2 separate regions of the Homo sapiens genome follow, and region 2 is linked to region 1. The links come from fine-mapping of genetic effects on gene expression. A gene starts in region 1. The other region holds a variant in brackets. All regions are shown on one strand. Distances are between the middles of the regions.

Region 1 (9,392 bases):
GTCTCCCTTTTTATACCAACTGTTTTGTTTGGTTATTTATTTATTTATTTATTTATTTATTTATTTATTTTTTGAGACAAAGTCTCGTTCTGTCACCCAGGCTGGAGTGCAGTGGCACAATCTTGGCTCACTGCAGCCTCTGCCTTCCAGGTTAAGCAATTCTCCTGCCTCAGCCTCCCGAGTAACTGGGATTACAGGTGTGCACCACCAGGCCTGGCTAATTTTTGTATTTTTGGTAAAGACAAGGTTTCACCATGTTGACCAGGCTGGTCTCAAACTCCTAGCCTCAGGTGATCCTTTTGCCTCGGCCTCCCAAAGTGCTGGGATTACAGGCGTGAGCCACTGTGCCTGGCCCCAACTGTTTTACATTATTCACTATTGTGATTATGAAATTAATTCATGGCTAATGCATATACACATAGTTGAAAAATCAATATAATGACCTAAATTATAATAGAGGAGGAATAAAATAAAGTAATACATAATTAATATTTAAATGCTCACTCAGAGCTACACCAGAGGTCACAAATAAGCAGTCAGATATTTGTACCTATTTATAATTTAAGAACAGAGAGTCAGGCACTCTGGAATATTTTTTACACTTTTTCTTTAAATTGCTGTTATTTTGAAACAGGAACTAAAGAAATATACACATATGAAATTACTGGGCTTGTGGGCATCATATATGTGTTGATTGCTGAAACAGATAACATGAATGGAACTGGCTTCTGTGTCCTGATTTTCCAAAGTGGTAAAAAGAGTACCATCCCTTCCTAGACTTATACAGTAGTTGCATTTCCAGAAATTCCTGTGTGTATTCACAAGATGCAAAAACATTTTGTGTTTATATGTAAAACAAAGTTAAAGTTCCACCGTAATTCGATGCACATTTCAACTGAAGCAAAGGTCAGGTCTGACAAATGAAAGCCATGTGGGACACAGACCAATCTCCTGCATCTGGGGCCACCCCCAACTAAATGTCAGTGGCCCCCTCCTCCCATCATTGTGATGACCAATGAAAGTACCTGCAAATTTCCAAAATGCCCCCTAGCGGGCAGTACCCCTGTGGATTATGGTGGTGGGCAGAGGTCGACAAGGCAGATCGGCCTTTGTTTGTTCATCTGTGAAATGAGGACAGTAGTAGCTGAATGAGGGAGACAATGCATGTAAAACACTTAGCTAGGTACCCGGCACATGGTATGTCCTCCAAAAATGTAAGCTAGTGTTATCTTCCAGTTAATCAGCAGAGATTGTTTGAGGGGACACTGTGTCCCCGATGCCCAGGTAGGTGTTTGTAAGGAATGCACATCAGGCAAGCACCACTATCCCTGCTCCACACATGAAATAAATGGTGAATTATTAATCAATTACAGTTTAGAAAAAGGAGCACCCAAAGGGGAGCTGGAGTCAGAGAAATCTTTCTGGAAAAGACAATAGTGGCTTGTTTAACCAGAGCAGCTGGAACATGATGGGAAATATATTTATTCCATGAATAACAAACAACTCCTAGATCCTTGCTTCTCAAAGTGTGGTCTTCAGATATGCAGCATCAGCAGCATCGGGAGGTTTGTTAGAAACAGCATCTCAGCCTGGTGGAAAACAAACAAAAAAAAGAAACTTTTAATCTGAGGAATGCAAGCCCCTTTACATTATCAGCCCCAGAGACTTACTGGAATGAAACAGCAGCAAGTGACAACCATTTGAGTGAAATAATGATCTCTAGAAGCCACTGACTATGTGGGCTCTAGACTAATTTATGCCAAATAGCCATAAAATGGCCATACACTGGACACCATAACTCCTACCCGACAGTTCAACAATCTATAGCCAAGTTATCTCTGCAAACCAATGAGGATTCCTGTCACACAACTTTATATCGGCCCTCTCTTTGTTCCCTTTGCCTTTAAAAACCTGCTTATAACAAAGGCTAATGGAGCACTCCTCAAGGCAACTTAGAAACGTCCTGGGTAGCTGTCCTCATTTGGGCTCAAGCAAATTCTTTCAATTATATTTTGTGCCTCAGCCTCTTCCTTTTAGGTTGACAGCCTCTATCCCAGACCAACTAAATTAGAATCAGCATTTTAAGAAGAATTGCGGATGTTCATTGCCACGCTCACCTTTGAGATGTGCTGGACTTACAGAACCAACTGAGGAACCAGAGGAAAGAATAATGATACCAGTTCCTTTGGTGAGAATCTGCTGCAGACCGTGTGTGTGTGTATGTGAAGGGCACAGAGCTAGATGGTCCATATTGTGGAGAGTAATCATAAAGGGTGGTTGCAGAATAATTGACATCAGAATGTGTGTTGGAGGCCGGGGGGCAAGAGGGGTTTAAAGGAAGGTTCCCAGCCAGATCCCAGATCTATTGAACCAGAATCTCAGAGAGCCAGGGAGGAATAATTTTTTTTTTTTGAGATGGAGTCTCGCTCTGTCGCCCAGGCTGGAGTGCAGTGGCATGATCTCAGCTCACTGCAAGCTCCGCCTCCTGGGTTCATGCCATTCTCCTGCCTCAGCCTCCTGAGTAGCCGGGACTACAGGCACCTGCCACCACGCCCGGCTAATTTTCTGTATTTTTAGTAGAGACGGGGTTTCACCATGTTAGCCAGGATGGTCTCGATCTCCTGACCTTGTGATCTGCCCACCTTGGCCTCCCAAAGTGCTGGGATTACAAGCGTGAGCCACCACGCCCAGCCAATTTTTTTTAAGCCCCCAGATGACTCTTAGAATGGGGAAGTGCCTTACAAAATACCCATGCCAAGGTCCCAGCCAAGAACGATCACGTTAAATATGATATCAGAATCTCTAGCAGTCGAAGCTTCGGTATTTTTGTTCTTAGACTCCCCAGGTGATACTTTGAGAGCCATTGACAGGGGGATTAAATGGGATAGACTGGAGGAAAAAAGTGGAGGAGATGACTCTGCAAATATATCTGAAGGATGTTCTACCTTAGAGGATAGAACCAGGATTAATGGGTAGAGATTTTCATTGTCTTTATCCAAGTAATCATAGCATTTTTCTTTTTCTTTGCAGCAGGAAGGGATCTTTGAAATGACGTAGTTCAACTCTTTCAATTTGTAGTTGAAGAAATTAGTGGTCAACAAGGTAAAGTAAGTTGGTCAAGGTCAACTCAGATCTTCTCATTCCAATCCAGCAACAACAATAATAACAGCAGCAACAAAATAAAGTAAGACCCCTCTCCCCATTTCTGGTGATATTTCCAGTGCACCACAAAGGCATTTAAATCCTACTCTCATTTCAATCACAAGCAAAGCAGACAAGAAAAAGGAAAAGGGTGACTCTTCAAGAAACGAGGAGGACTCCTTTAAATGAGGAATTGACATTTTGGAGTACCCGGATTAAATTCAGAGACTGAATCAATCTAAAGACGAAAGCCGGACTCTAGAGCTTGGATGTTGATACCATTGAAACGGTAGGGGCAGAAAAGGTGTGATACTTTCCTCCCCATCATAAGGGGCACGGCAAACATGCTTATAACAAAAGATAGGCTAATAAGAGAAAAGCGTAACAAATTTATTGAATCAAAGTTTTATGTGATACAGGAGCCTTCAGAAATGAAGATGCAAAGACTCAGGGAAAACTGCCTGTTTTTATGCTTAGATTCAGTGAAGAATGGACAGCCTTATAGAAATGTGATTGGACAAAGGGTGTGATCTAATGGTAATAGACTGAGGGTTGAACCCAGCGAGGCCTGTTCAGATTCTTCTTGGCCTCTCTGTGCAGCATGTATAGAGCAGGACCTCTTCTGGAATGAGGGTCTCAGGATCTACTATCAGACAAGGTAGGTCTGAGTATTTCTTCATGGCCAGCTCCTACACAGAAAGGCAGAGGACCAGGGAGGTTGGAGTACTATTTCTAGGTTGTATGACCACCGTAGGGAAGAGGAATTCTGGTTTCTGTGAACTGCTTAGTGGGGAGAAAGTCGGGGGGGAGACAGACTTTGTTTCTAAGGCGGCTTCAGAGGCCTGTTTAGTTTTTTAGTTCAAACTTAGCATACCAAAGTGCCATACGTTGGGGTATACTTTTCTGAGCCTCAACAAATCCAAGCTGAATTTATTAAACAGCAGGTCCTCTTTTGCTCCTCTCTGGGCATCAAGAGAGCTGGCGTGTGCCCTGCGGTGGACTCTCACTGGTGAGATCAGCCCCACCGCACAAAATGAATTAAGAGCTGCAGGGGTCAGAGTAGGGGAGACTTCTCGTAGAAGGGAGGCTTCCATGGATTTCTGAAGATCACACAAGACTTAGATGAGCAGGGGAGCGAACTGTATGGGACAAAGGCCCAGGAAGAGTCGAAATGGGGAAGCCTCGGAGTTCAAGCATCTTCTATAGCGCCCGCTGTCCTAAAGATACCCCATCCCTGGCTAAATGGGTGCTCCAGGGAGAAACTGGGAGGGGAGTTAAAGCTCCGAGAAGGACGGAGAGCGACGGGCTTGGGGACAGATGAACCCTTTTTCCCTGGATGAGCAGTGAGAATGGAGGCCCAGGCGAAGACCCTGTACAGCCTCTGAAGCCTGTGCAGCTCCAGAAGAGAAAGATGCCAAATTAGGGGCGCTGTCTGCTACCCACGCGCGGCCGCGGGCTTCGCGGACCCCAGAGGAATCCAGTGGGAGGGGTCCCCTCTGGGCACCATCCCGCGGCGCAGGTGGGGCGGGTCCCCGCTACGCCCTAGCCAAGCTCTGCCAGGGCCGCCTGTGGGTCCTCACGCTGGTTCCTCCCTCTCGTCCGCCTCGGTGCGCCGGCTCCCGCGCCCGGGCCTTGGGGCGGGTCCCTGCCGCCCGCACCTGCCCCCAGGGGCGGAGCGCGGCGGCAACAACGCGGCCCCAGCCTCCGCCACCGGCCGCGGAGCCGAGCGGCTCTCCGCTCGTCCCCGCCCCCGCCCGTGCACCTCCACTCCGCGGCGCCCGCCCGCCCTCCCTCCCTGTCCACGCGGCCAGTCCGTCCGCTCCTGCCCCCGCCAGAGCCGCGGCGCCTCGCACTTCTGACTCGAGTCCCCGCCGCGCTTGTCGTCGCCGCCGCCGGGATCCGCAGCCCCGCGCCATGGAGCCGGCCGCGGGCATCCAGCGCCGCAGCTCCCAGGGGCCCACCGTCCCGCCGCCGCCCCGGGGCCACGCGCCACCGGCTGCCGCCCCCGGCCCGGCCCCGCTGAGCTCCCCGGTGCGCGAGCCGCCCCAGCTGGAGGAGGAGCGGCAGGTGCGGATCAGCGAGAGCGGCCAGTTCAGCGACGGGCTGGAGGACCGAGGTGAGCGCGAGCTGCCCGACCCGGCCGGCGACCGGGGTGGCTGCTCGGGGCCCGCCTCTCCCCACTCGCGGGCCGCGCTGGGCGAGGCGCGGGGCTCGGAGCGCGCGGGGGCGCGGAGCCCCGACTTCCCGGCGAGAACGCCGCTAGCCGAGAGCGGCAGCCCCACCTTCTGCGGCCGGCACCGCCTCGGCTGCGGTTCCTTCCCTCGAAGCCCAGACCCCAGCTGCCTTCAGGCCGACCCCGCCTGGACTCGCGCCCTCCTCTCCGCCAGCTCCAGGCCCTCCGGCGCCCACGGGAAAAGTTTGCGGGAGGCATTTTTTGCGTTCGGAGTCGAGCGCTTCTGGGCCACTCCGGGCCCTACTCAGCTCGGAGGGACCCAGGCTCGTTGCATCCTCCTTTCCGTAGTCCCCTGCGGCTCCGCCGGCTGCCTGGGAGAACTTCCCTCTGCGGGTGTAGCCGCGAGATGTCCCTCGGCGGCCGCCCGGCTGCCCGCCCCGGCGAAGGGCGCAAGGAGGGGAGCGAGCCGGGACTCGGGCGGCCTCTGGTCTCGGGCAGTCCCCGATTCTAATCGCGGACGCGGGTCACAGTGGGTCCCTGCCCCGTCGTCTCATGATGGGGCAGAGGAATGGGACATTTGGATTTGGGCCACCAACCTCATCTGGATGGATGCCACTGAAACCTGATGTTTCCGGAGGGCGCGTCTGCAGACCCTTCAGAGCTCCCCTCCACTGACACTGGCCTGGAGGTCAGCACACTTGCCTCTGCTGGGAGACCACACTCTGCCTCCCACCGACTGCCGATGCCCCCTTGAGTCGCCAGTGTAGGACGGGAGAGACTCCCTGCTCGTTCCCGCGTCTCTCTTCTCCATCCCTTCCGCGTTTCCTTTGGGCTTGGATTCTTTGCAGAGGGAGCCCTGTTCTTGGCCGCGTCTGCACCTTTTCTACTTCTTGCTGAATCCGAATCCAAATTGTCCCCCTCAGAACGAATCTGTGGTTCTGCTAAAACCGTTTAGTGGCCAAAGAGGGATTCTTGCAGCCAGGCCCTTTAGGGGAAGCCGGCTCTTTTGCACCTCCACCCCCTTTTCTTGGAAGCCTTATTTTGTTGGCTATGGCGGGTTTATATATTTTAGACTTAGCAGGTTTCTGTCCTATTCTTAGTATCTCCTGTACATTTTTATTCCGGTTTAGTGTTCGGATGCACGATCTCTTTCTCCTTAGAAATTCTAAACTGTAGCATGTGAAATAAAATGACATGGAAACGGCAGTTCCCAGAGAATCCGCCTAGATGCTCAGCGAGAACTGGAGCTGCTCCAGTGGCAACGAATTCTGCACCTCTGTTGCAGTTTCTCCCCCTGTTCTCACATAACTAGATGCCATTTAAGAGGTGAGGACAGGGGACATCACGAGCATGGAACAAAACCTCTCACTTTTATTATAGGATGTGTTCATTACCTTTGCCCCTCTCCAGCTAATATCGTAGGATTTAAAAATTCCATATTGAAGAAAGACAGAAGCCTGGGTTGAGCTTATTTTTGTAGCATTGCAGGTCATCTCTAAGAGCTGGCCTGTTTCTCCCTACCCCACAAAATGATAGGAGGGAAGACAGTGCTAGGGTGAGTTCATATTTAGCATCATTTTGTAGTTCATGTTCAAGTGTAAAAAGCCCTTCTGAATTCATTCTTAAGGTTATTTTTCTCTGGTCAACGGAATTTCATTTTCCATTATATGATAGCATGAAAGCATTGACTGTTCGTAAACTGTCACTGTTTGAGAGCGTGGCATATCACACACAGCCTCTCTGTTAGGATGAACCCTATTCGCCAAAGAACCCGGTGCTGTGTGGCATTGAGAGCTGAACGTCAATGTGACATTCTTTTGTTTGACCTCTTCCTGATGGCAACCAGTATGTGGTGAATAAGTGATTTTTGTTAAGTAAACGAGAACGTTACCTGGGGAGGTTTACTGTAAGATTTTGTGTTTGTTGTTTCTGTTATTTTTTTTCTTATGGGGCTGCATTTTTCCAATATTGATTTTTATATCCTTTGGGAATGGGTTGAGTGCAGCTACCTCTTTCCTGCTGGTGAGAGGAATTGGGGAGGAGGAAGCCCCAGCACTTGCCTGCCGTGTGTCTCTGCATCCTGCCTGGCTTGCTTTCTTTCAGGCCTAAATACCTATAGGCTGTCTGTAGAGGGGTTGAGGGGTACCTCGGATCTGCACCTGTATTTGGCATTCTCTTTTGTCCTAACTCCCTTTGGAGCTATCAGGATGTGGTTCCAGACCACAGTTAACTCTCATCAAAGGTTTGCTTTAAAATCTAGTGTTTTGAGACTTTGGAGGCATTTGCGCCTTAGAAATGATGTGGGCTGGTTCTCAGAAACCTAGCTAGCTCAGAATGTCAGTAACTGCAGTGCCATCTGGTTGAACTTAAAGCTCAGGGAGCAAGAGCTCTGTGGCCTAAGACCTTTGGGGACTAAACACAAAAATTAGGCCAGGTTTATCTTAATCATTCTTCCCATCCCCTTTGAATACCTATTCTTCTCCCTACAAGTATTTTCCCATCATTCTGTCCGTAACCTTAGGGCCCAGCTTAGCCTTAGGTAATTATATGTGTCAGCATTTCCCAGTACTTCCCCATCTAACAAAATTTCCCTTTCTTCACAGAGTTCAAGCTTGACAAACTTAGGAGAAAGGAATTGGAACTAATGCATACTAGTGTAGAAATAACTGATGGCTTCAGCCTCTCCATATGTATTTGTACCTTTCCCCTCTCCAAAATAAATAAAGGATCAGTCTCTCATTAGTACTATGCTTAGTATTCCCAGGCCAAAATTGCAAATTATGAAATTTGAGTGAGTTTAGAAATTCAAATATGGGGGCCAGCTATGGGTAGGGAGGATCCAGCCCTGCCTGCAAATCCGAGGCCTGTCGTAGCTTCTCTAGGCTGTCCTGTCTCTTCAGCCTGGCTTTCTTCCAGCTTTAAAGCACAGCTTCCTGAAAACATTAGGAATTCTCACTACATCTTTGTAACTTGTGAGTGTGCCTGCATCCAACATGAGTGTGGAGGTACCTGTGTGTGGAACATTCACTAGGAACTGAGTCTTTATACATCATCATACTACACTTCCCCTTGAGGAGTGCAAAGTTTTCCATTCTTAGGATCGGCTATATTTTTAGAAAGGAAAATCAGCAGAAAATAAGCAAAAGTTGAATAGAAATGGGAAAGTCCTTCCATTTTTGGACAGTCTTCCCATTGTACTTATTCCATTTTATTTTTTAATTTTAAAAATATCACGGAGGAGGCACACACAGGCCCAGATCTGGGGAAGAAGTACTGGTCGTAATGCTGAGAAGTCCCAAGTGCCACCTTAGCGGGACAGTCCAGCTGTCCTGGGCTGTCATCTGAAACTCCTCCAGGGGGGTGCTGTTTCACTGGTGGGTGAAGCATGTAGATTGGTCCACATGTGTGGTCAGGACCAGTTATATTATTGAAACTAGCTGACTTTGGATGGAAAAATAAATGTTATGCGGCTGAAGAGAAAATGGGCATCATTGTCATTCCTCTTAGAAAATGAAATCTACTTCTCAAAGGAACCTTGTTTTTACCTCAGTGGATGACAATCTGGAGATTGTTGCTGTCAAAATACCTAGCAAACAAACTGCTTATTTGAGCCAGTACTTAAATGTTATAGCTTCACTTCTCCTGAAAATCAATTGGCCATGATGGAAGGAATATTTTTATATCATTTGGGAAAAGGGACATAAATTATTAAGGGTGCGTGGAATCTGCTCATTCTAGGATAGGGCTATAACTGGTGATTGTATAGTTGAAAACTGGAATAGTGTGGTTTTTGGCAGCTAAGGAAGATATAGACAAAGGGACATGCTATATTTTTATTTAAATTACTTGTACCTGGGCAGAATTTGACAAGAGAGAAGGTATTTATTTTTTCCCTCCAAGTCCACTCACAAAGGAAGGTTTGGGGAGATTTTTACAGAGAGAGGATGGTGATGGTGTTTATGCTCAACATTTGCATTTTCATCTCCCTTTTGATTCTGTGTAAGCCTGTGGGTTTCAATTATTTAAAAATCTCTAGGCTGTGAGCTGGGCTCACTCAGCAACCTTCTTGACATTCTGG
Region 2 (9,392 bases), 26 kb after region 1:
CAATTGTATGCCCATAAATTTGAAGACTTGGATGAAGTGCATAGTTTACTAGAATAACTTGCCATGAATGGTTTATGACCATTAAAGATGTTAATCCAAGACGGTAGTTCATGATCAGAGGTGATTTTGCACCCCCTCCCTTCCCTGGAGACATCCAGCAATGTCAAGAGACACTTCTGTTTGTCACAGTTGGGAATGGAGGTGCTACTGGTATCTACTGGGTGGAGGGCAAGAATGCTGTTAAACATCGTAGAGTACACAGGACAGCCCCTCACAGCAAAGAATTATCTGGCTCAAAATGTCAGTGGTGCCCATGGTTGAGAAACTCTGATCTAGGCCAGCAGTGGCTTTATGAGTGCTTTTATGAATGTTCAAGGATCAGATAATCCCAATCTCATGCACTCCATTCTACAGAAAAAGAAGGAAAGCTTCCTATATCATTTTGGGACTACTACTACTGTGATACCTAAATCAAAGGCAACAGAGAATTTATAGGTCAGTATCACTCATGAATATAGATACAAAAAGTCTTTAATAAGATATTTGCAAACTAAATCTCATTGTGTTTATATAAAAATAAATAAATAAATGAACATGCTCACCACATGTGTTTATTTTTGGAATCTAGGATGATATAATCAGAATGTTTATTATGTAATTTACCATGTTCATAAAAGGTCAGGAGTTCGAGACCAGCCTGGCCAACATGGCGAAACCCCGTCTCTACTAAAAATGTAAAAATTAGGTGGGCATGGTGGCAGGCACCTGTAATCCCAGCTACTTGGGAGGCTGAGGCAGGAGAATCACTTGAACCCGGGAGGCGGAGGTTGCAGTCAGCTGAGAGTGCACCACTGCACTCCAGCCTGGGTGACAAGAGTGAAACTCCATCTCAAAAAAAAAAAAAAAAAATTGAGAAGAAACCTATAGTATCTCTCAATACAAAAAGCATTTGGTAAAATTCAAGACAAGATAAAAACTTTTAGCAACCAGGCTGGGAATTGCTGATAAAGGTTATTTAACCTAAAATATTAATTGTAACTGGTAAATTAGGCAGACTCAGCCCATAAAAATCTAAAATGAAGATAAGGACGTCTGCTGTTACCACTTCTCCTTATTATTATACGTGATGTCCTACCCAGTATAGTAGGGCAAGCAAAAGAAAGAAAGGTACTGTATATGGATTGGGGAGGAAAAAAGTAACCATCATTGCTTGTGGATATTATAGTTTACATAGAGCTTTATAGATATTATAGTCAATATAGAGCTTTCCATAGCTCTACATAGAAAAGCTAAGGGAAGCCGGGCATGGTGGCTCACACCTGTAATCCCAGAACTTTGGGAGGTCAAGGTGGGCAGATCACCTGAGGTCAGGAATTCGAGACCAGCCTGGCCAACATGGCGAAATCCCCTCTCTACTAAAAATACAAAAATTACCTGGGCATGGTGGCGGGTGCCTGTAATCCCAGCTACTCGGGGGGCTGAGGAAGGAGAATCGCTTGAACCTGGGAGGTGGAGGTTGCAGTAAGCTGAGATCATGCCACTGCACTCTAGCCTGAGTGACAAGAGCAAAACAAAAGAAAAGCCAAGGGATTCTGCAGATACTATTAGAAGTAAGAAATTCCAACAAAGCTGCTGGGGATGGGTAGAAGTTTAATATACTAAAATCAAATGTATTCTTATATAATAGCAACACAGCAATACATTTTTAATTTTCATAATGATGTCATTTCTCATAGCAACAAACCAAAAGGAATAAATCTAATATAGGTATAATTCCTTCATGAAGAAAATTATAAAATGCTATTAAAATGATAAAATAAGATCTGAATAGAGAGAAATCTCATGTTCAGAGCTGGGAAGACAATCTAATAAGGATGTCATTTCTCCTTATATTAACCCTAATACATGCAATTTCACTAAGAATTCCAATAGGCTTTTTCCAGTGCAGTTGGTAAGCTCTGAAATGTTGATGGAGGAATAAAGGGCTAAGAATAGTCAAGATAATTTTCAAGAACAAGGTGCATATATATCTCAAAACTTCTAAAACTAGGGCAGTTGAGATTGTGATATTTTTAGGAACAAATAGACCAGGAAAGTTGAATAGGGAGTCCAGAAATAGTAACCACATATATGGAAATTGGATATGTGAGAGAGGTAGCATCACACATCAGGGAGGGAAATAATGATACCACCACAATTGGCTGTCTATATGGAAAAACTAAAATAAGTTTGTACCTCCCACATATACAAATATAAATTCCATGTGATTTAAGAAACTAAACCTGAAAAGAAAGAATTTAAACCTTTTTTTTTTTTTTTTTGAGACGGTGTCTTTCTCTTGTTGCCCAGGCTGGAGTGCAATGGCATGATCTCGACTTGCTGCAACCTCCGCCTCCTAGGTTCAAGAAATTCTCCTACCTCAGCCTCCTGATAGCTGGGATTACAGGCACCCACCACCACGCCTGGCTAATTTTTTGTATTTTTAGTAGAGACGGGGTTTCGCCATATTGGCCGGGCTGGTCTGGAACTCCTGACCTCAGGTGATCTGCCTGCCTTGGCTTCCCAATTACAGGCATGAGCTACCATGCCCAACCAAAACTTTTAAACAATAATATGAGACTCTCCATTTGACCTGGAAGTAAAAGAAAGGCTTTTGAATTTAAGACACAGAAAGCACAAACCATGAATAGAAACTTCAAAAAATTTAACTTCAAGCTGACTAAGAAGAACTTTGGGCACAGAAAACACTATATAAAACAACTGTATCTTGGTAATAGCTCTTCTGGGTTAACTTTTTTCAGGTAAAAGGTAGTTTCATGTCTTTCTAGTTCAAGAAAACTACAGTTTTTATAGTATTTGTTCTGTTCTGTTGCTTTGATTTAATTCCTTAGGGATTTATAATGTATGTGTATGTTGGCTCTTTTTTGCTTGTCATTTTTATCTAGTATTTTTTTCCACATCATTTTTATTTTTCATTTCTTTTTGATTAAAAATTTGCCCGGGCACGGTGGCTCACGCCTGTAATCCCAGCTACTGGGAGGCCGAGATGGGTGAATCACCTGAGGTCAGGGGTTCGAGACCAGCCTGGCCAACATGGTGAAACCCCATCTCTACTGGAAATACAAAAAATTAGCCAGGTGTGGTGATGGGCACCTGTAATCCCAGCTACTCAGGAGGCTGAGGCAGGAGAATTGCTTGAATCCGGGAGGCGGAGGTTGCAGTGAGCCGAGATTGAACCACTGCACTCTAGCCTGGGTGACAGAGCGAGACTCCGTCTCAAAAAAAATTTTTTTTTCCTCCTTTCCATCATTTAGTTCTCTAAAAGTATTAGCTTTGTTATTGGTTTTGCTATTTTAGTTTTTCTGATGTCTTTAAGGAGGAATTCAGGGAAATAAAAAAACTTTCACCACCAGTTTTTTTCTTTCCAGAAAACCGTGGAGTTTGTATTTCTTTTTACCTGGGTTCCTTTTACATTATGCTTTTATTTATCCCGGGAGATTTCTGGCATTCCAGTTAATTATACTTAGAGACATTGTAGTATTTTTAGATGTCAGTTGATCTTTGTTCATTTGATAAAGTACATTTTCAAAATGGAAACTTTCTGCTATATTTTTTAAAGAATAATGTGTGTATATAGTCATTTTGTGAGAGTTTGGATCTAATCCCAGGTTATTCTTCAGTGTGAATGAGGAGATATGGTATCAGAACTGAATAGATATTTATTACAGAGTAATTGATGTACCAGTCTCCTGAAAGGAGAAGCTTAAACTTTACATGTCCCATAAAGAGAGCATTCTTAGGGAATGAATTCTGCATTACAAAAGATGGCCATTTTTTTATCCAAAGCAAGGACAGATGTGATTTATTTCTGGTGAAATAAGTTCTTAGTGGTAAGTAAATCTCAGTACCTTTAAGTGATAAAGTCACCATGATAATGACACTAGTCCTTTAGTTCTCCAGTATGGGCAGTGCCATTCTTCCCAGATGCCATCATTAGAGATTCGTTACCCTCTTTAGGTCAATTCCAATAGTTCTTCAGCTTTTGTTTGAATACTTCTAGTACTGGGATTCTAATAACTTAGCGAGACCCAGTTTATGTTGCCCAGTCCCAATTTCAGAAAGCTTTTTAAATGGTTAATTGAATGGTTTACCTTTTTCTAACTCCTCTTTTATAGTCATTATTTTCTTAGCTAACACTTAGCAAGCACATAGTATGCTGGGCACTGTGCTAAGTGCTTCCCACAGATCACACTTCATTCTTGCAACATTGCCCTGAGGTAACATTATCATCCCCACTTTGTAGATGGGGATTTTAAGACTCAGAAAAGTTAGGGAGCTTTCCTAAGTTTCCAAGCTCATAAGAGATAGAGTATTCACACTCTGCCCTACTTGACTCAGAGCCTCTACTCTCAACCATGGGACCCATCTCCATTGTTCACAAGACAGATCTGCAGTGCGAGCTTATTGTGTTGTTTTGTCACCTCTTCCAAAGACTGAACATCCCCAGACTCTTCAGCTGTTCCTCATGTAGGAGGAAACCCACTCTCCTGGCCAACCTTGTCTGGACCTAAAGGTGTCCTGTTTAAAGCAGTGCCCAGAGGTGTCTTCTAAGTCATGTCATCAACAGAGAATATAGTAGA[C/A]CTGCTATCTGACAGGTATGGAATTCACAGTAATTCCTACCAAAGCAGGTCAAGGTTGATTTGTTTTTAAAAGCTCCATCATGCTGTAGGCTCAGTTTCAGGTTTTTTTTTTTTTTTTTTTTTTGATGTAGTTTTTGCTCTTGTTGCCCAGGCTGGAGTGCAGTGTTGCAATCTTGGCTCACTGCAACCTCTGCCTCTTGGGCTCAAGCAATTCTCCTGCCTCAACCTCCTGAGTAGCCAGGATTACAGGCACATGCTTCCATGCCCGGCTAATTTTTTTCTATTTTTAGTAGAGATGGGGTTTCGCCATGTTGGCCAGGGTGGTCTCGAACTCCTGACCTCAGGTGATCCACCCGCCTTGGCCTGCCAAAGTGCTGGGATTACAGGCATGAGCCACCACGTCTGGAAAGGTTTCAGTTTTTGATCACCTACAATTGCTGGAGTTTTAAACCAATGTTAAAATTTATTTTTTTAAATGTCTTACTCTTCAAGCAGGGCCCATATCAGTATCTGCTAATACTCAAGGTTTCTGGATGAAGAGGGAGAGTAAAGAGTTCCAGAGCCTAGAGGGTGGGGAGGGCAGAATCTCTAAAAGAAATAAGGGATTAGAGACAAAGCAAGGGTTCTGTGGCACTGTGGAGGCTGAGGCACAGGGGGGTCCAGAGATGTCTTCAGTGTGAAGATGCTGGGTTATGGCCTGGCAGTACTTTGGGAAGGAGACAACTGATGATCAGTTGGAAACCTGCAACTGGAACGTGACTGAGGTGCTGGAAGAAAGATGGATTTGGGAGTGTTTTGCTTTAGGGCAATGACTGAGGCAATGTGGTGGATGGGTGAAGTAGCCTGGGATCATGAGGAGGAGAGAGGAACTGCTTTGGACTGAATTGTATTCCTCAAAATAAATATGTGAAGCTGTCACCCACAGTGTGATGGTATTTGGAGGGGGAGGCTTTGGGAGGTGGCTCAGTTTACACAAGGTCATGAGGATGATGAGGTGATGAGGGCAGGACTCTCGTGATGGGATTGTGCACTTATAAGAAGAGACACCAGAGGGCTTGCTTCTTCTCTGCCTCCACCCTCTGCACTGAGGAACGGCCGTGTGAGGACGCAGTGAGGAGGCAGCCATCTGGAACCCACGGGGAGCCCTCCCCAGACACCAACCCTCCCAGCCCCTGGATCTTGGACTTCCAGCCTCCAAAGCTGTGAGAAATAAATTCATGGTGTTGAAGTCCCCCAGCCTGTGGTATTTTGTTATGGCAGCCCAAGCAGACTAAGGAGGGGAAACGGCAAAGGACAGAATTTGGAGAATGACTTCTCTTGGGGTAGGAAGATGATAAGGAACTAGTGGAAGACATAGAGGTCAGAAAAGTTGAAGGGAATGTATTCATTTTCTCTGGCTGTTGTAACAAATGACTGCAAACTTGGTGGCTTCTAATAACAAGATCTATTTATTCTTTCACATTTCTGGAGACCAGAAGTCCAAAATCAGGATCGCTGGGCTGAAGTGAAGGGTCAGCAGGGCTGTGCTCCTGCAGAGGTGTAGGGAAGAATACTTTCTTTGTTTCTTCTGTTCTTGGTGGCTGCTGGCATTCCTTGGCTCATGGGCATATCACTCCAGTCTTTAAGGCTGGCATCTTCAAATCTCTCTCTACTTCTCCCTGTGTCAAATCTCCCTCCACCTGTCTCTTATGAGGACACTTGTGATGGCATTTAAGGCCCACCTGGATAACTCAGGGTCATCACTCCTGCTACGGTTCTGAAATTAATCACATCTGCAAAGATATCCACTGCAGCCCCTGCCTCAATCCTATTTGTTGCTTATTAAGGTAACGTGCACAGGTTCTAGGGATTAGGATGTGGAGCAAGGATTGTACAAGGATACAGAAAGGCAAATACAACACTTCAAGAAGGTGTGACCAGCGATGTTACATGCCAGCCAGGGTCAAGGCTGAGGAGACTGTTCATTGGAGTTGGTGTTTAGGATGTCACTTTGTGACTCTGCAGAGAACATTTTGTCAGAGTGGTAAACAAGGAAGCCAGGTTGCCAAGAGATGGGCATGAGCATTGGAGAAGGAAAGGGACTGTCAGCATAGTGCTGTCTATTGGAGAAGCCTGGCGGCACCTAGGGTTGTCTGACAAGGGTGTACGTGCGCATGTGTGCATGTCTGTATGAGCATGTGTATGTGTACATGCACGTGTGTGTGTATTTACAATAGAGTTGTTTGGAAATACAATGAATAACATTCATTTTCTCTTCCCAAGTTCAGAACCAGAGAGGAGTCAAACAGAGGGAAAGCAAAATATCAGCTTCATGGCTGAGAAACCCGGATTGGAGAATGGGGCTCTCAGTACAGCCACAAGGGCTTCTTGATGTTTGGTGCCTACGCTAGGCAGACTCAGTGACTTGACTGCTCCTCCAGGGACACGGGTCTACTTGTGGAATGACAGGTGCTGACTTGAGATCCCCTTTTCTGCAGAAGGCCAGCAGCAGAGAGATGAAGAGGGGGCTTTGCTACCCTTGTTCTTGGAACTCACCAGGCATTTTGATTTCTCCCCTGTTCTCCCCAAAGTCCTGCTCTGGGAGAGTTGGCTGCTCCCTGCTGAGGCCCTCACTGCTGTTTGTATGAACCACTGCCCTCCTATTTCCCCAGTGATTGGCAGAGTGCCTCCCCCACCCCTGACTACCATTCCCGCCAGCCACACTGTGAGCGCCTGGAGTGTGGGACCTGATCTCCTCCGTTTTGTCACCCACCCCTGGGGCACCGATTGCCTGGACCAGGTAGATGGGTAGTCAGGGTTTCTTGAATAAATGAATGAGGAAGTTGTCTCTCAAAGTCGTTATCCAGGGCCCTGTCTTTACTTTAGTAGTGTATTTCCGTTTCACTGATATTTGCATTTTGCTAGTATTAGGCTTTACACTGGTGGGAATGGCCACAACTGTGATTATACAAGGTCTAATTAGTCAGCCTTGAGAATAGCTGTGTAAAGAAAGCCAAAGTCATGAAGTTCTTAATTGTGTCAGAGGGAAGGATTGGGTTTTTTCATAGTTTGCTCAAGGCTCTGAAGAATTCAGTGGCTTTTCTTGTGGTAAATGAAATCCATCCTTCACCTTGATTTGTGACTTTTCTCCTTTATAAATTGCCGATATAGGCTGAGTGCGGTGGCTCATGCCTGTAATCCCAGCACTGGGAGGCTGAGGCTGGCGGATCACTTGAGGTCAGGAGTTCAAGACCAGCCTGGCTATCATGGTGAAACCCTGTCTCTACTAAAAATTAAAAAATTAGCCAGGTATGGTGGCACACACTTGTAATCCCAGCTACTCAGGAGGCTGAGGCAGGAGAATTGCTGGAACCCAGGAGGTGGAGGTTACAGTGAGCCAAGATCATGCCACTGCACTCCAGCCTGGGCAACAGAGTGAGACTCTGTCTCAAAAAAAAAAAAATTGCTGATGTAGGTAAAGTTTGATAACTTGATGGATATCCAGTGTATATAAATGCAAAGAGGCCGGGTACGGTGGCTCACCCCTGTAATCCCAGCACTTTGGGAGGCCGGGGCGGGTGGATCACTTGAGGTCAGGAGTTGGAGACCAGCCTGGCCAACATGCCGAAACCTTGTCTCTACTAAAAATACAAAAATTAGCCAGGCATGGTGGTGCGTGCCTGTAGTCCCAGCTATTTCAGAGGCTGAGGCACGAGAGTTGCTTGAACCTAGGAGGTGGAAATTGCAGTGAGCCGAGATCACACCACTGCATTCCAGCTTGAGTGCCAGGGTGAGACTCTGCCTCCAAAAACAAACAAACAAACAAACAAACAAACAAACCGCAAAGGAGCAAGTTGACTTTTACTTTTGGGCTCTGCATGCCGTTCTTTGGAGAAACCACATTTTTGATGGGGACCTATATTTGCTTGGGTGTTTATTTGAAATAAAGTTAAAATGTGTAACTTTGTGGTACATTTGGCTGTTAAAATTTAGGAAGCCATAACATTTGGTCATAAAAGCACAAGCTATTAGTTTTTCTAACTGTATCTTTTCCTCTGAACTCATTCATGTGCACTAGGGAGAGATGAACTGTGAACGTTTCCCCCACCTCTCTCATCTTGTTTTCCTCAAGGAAGCCCCATCCCTGAAGCAGGCCTCCCTGGAAGTTTCTGGACCTCTGAGTTCCTTTGAGTGGCAGCAGGCCTCTCAGGAGTGGGCAGTTGGAGAGGATGTCACAGTGCTAGTCATTTGGGGAAGTGAGCTGAGTCCCTAGACCAGTGCTGTCCAATAGAAACAAAATATAATTCTAGTCACAAATGTGACTCTCATGTGTAATTAAAAATTGTCTCCAGGCATGGTGGCTCATGCCTGTAATCCCAGCAGTTCGGGAGGCCGAGGCAGGCAGATCACCTGAGGTCAGGAGATTGAGACCAACCTGACCAACATGGTGAAACCCCATCTCTACTAAAAATACAAACTTAGCCAGGCGTGGTGATGCATGCCTGTAATCCCAGCTACTTGGGAGGCTGAGATAGGAGAATCGCTTGAATCTGGAAGGCAGAGGTTGCCGTGAGCCAAGATCATGCCATTGCACTCCAGCCTGGGTGACAGAGCGAGACTCCATCTCAAAAAAAAAAAAAAAACAAAACAAAAAACTTAGGCACTCCATTAAACAAAGAAGTAAAAAGAAACATAAAATTAATTTTGCTGATATTTTTATTTATCCCAGTATATCCAAAATATTATACTTGGTAATAAAATATAAGAATTATT

Direction of the effects. Positions count from the first base shown, and alleles are read on the strand shown. Sizes are in standard deviations (SD) of each study's normalised expression.
As copies of C replace A in region 2, the expression in thyroid of the gene that starts at base 4,991 in region 1 goes down (small effect, 0.36 SD a copy in GTEx).

Evidence for each region. PIP is the estimated chance that this variant, and not a neighbour inherited with it, causes the effect. A credible set is the group of variants that fine-mapping cannot tell apart.
Region 2: its variant is the best candidate, but not a certain one, in a credible set for the expression of TMEM163 in thyroid (GTEx, PIP 0.73).

What each region holds. Positions count from the first base shown.
Region 1 is chr2:134,714,599-134,723,990 of GRCh38, reverse strand. It overlaps TMEM163 (transmembrane protein 163), which reads left to right and starts at 4,991. Exons shown (of 8, transcript NM_030923.5): 1 at 4,991-5,257. The coding sequence starts at 5,056. LOC105373629 (a long non-coding RNA gene) reads right to left here and starts at 5,879. Exons shown (of 2, transcript XR_923354.4): 1 at 5,424-5,879; 2 at 1,467-1,589. RefSeq lists an enhancer at 1,766-2,965 and a silencer at 4,668-4,907.
Region 2 is chr2:134,688,981-134,698,372 of GRCh38, reverse strand. All of the region lies in intron 2 of TMEM163 (transmembrane protein 163), which reads left to right. Among named protein-coding and RNA genes, the nearest start is that of TMEM163, 25 kb to the left of the region's middle. The variant C/A (reference allele first, on the strand shown) is at 4,641.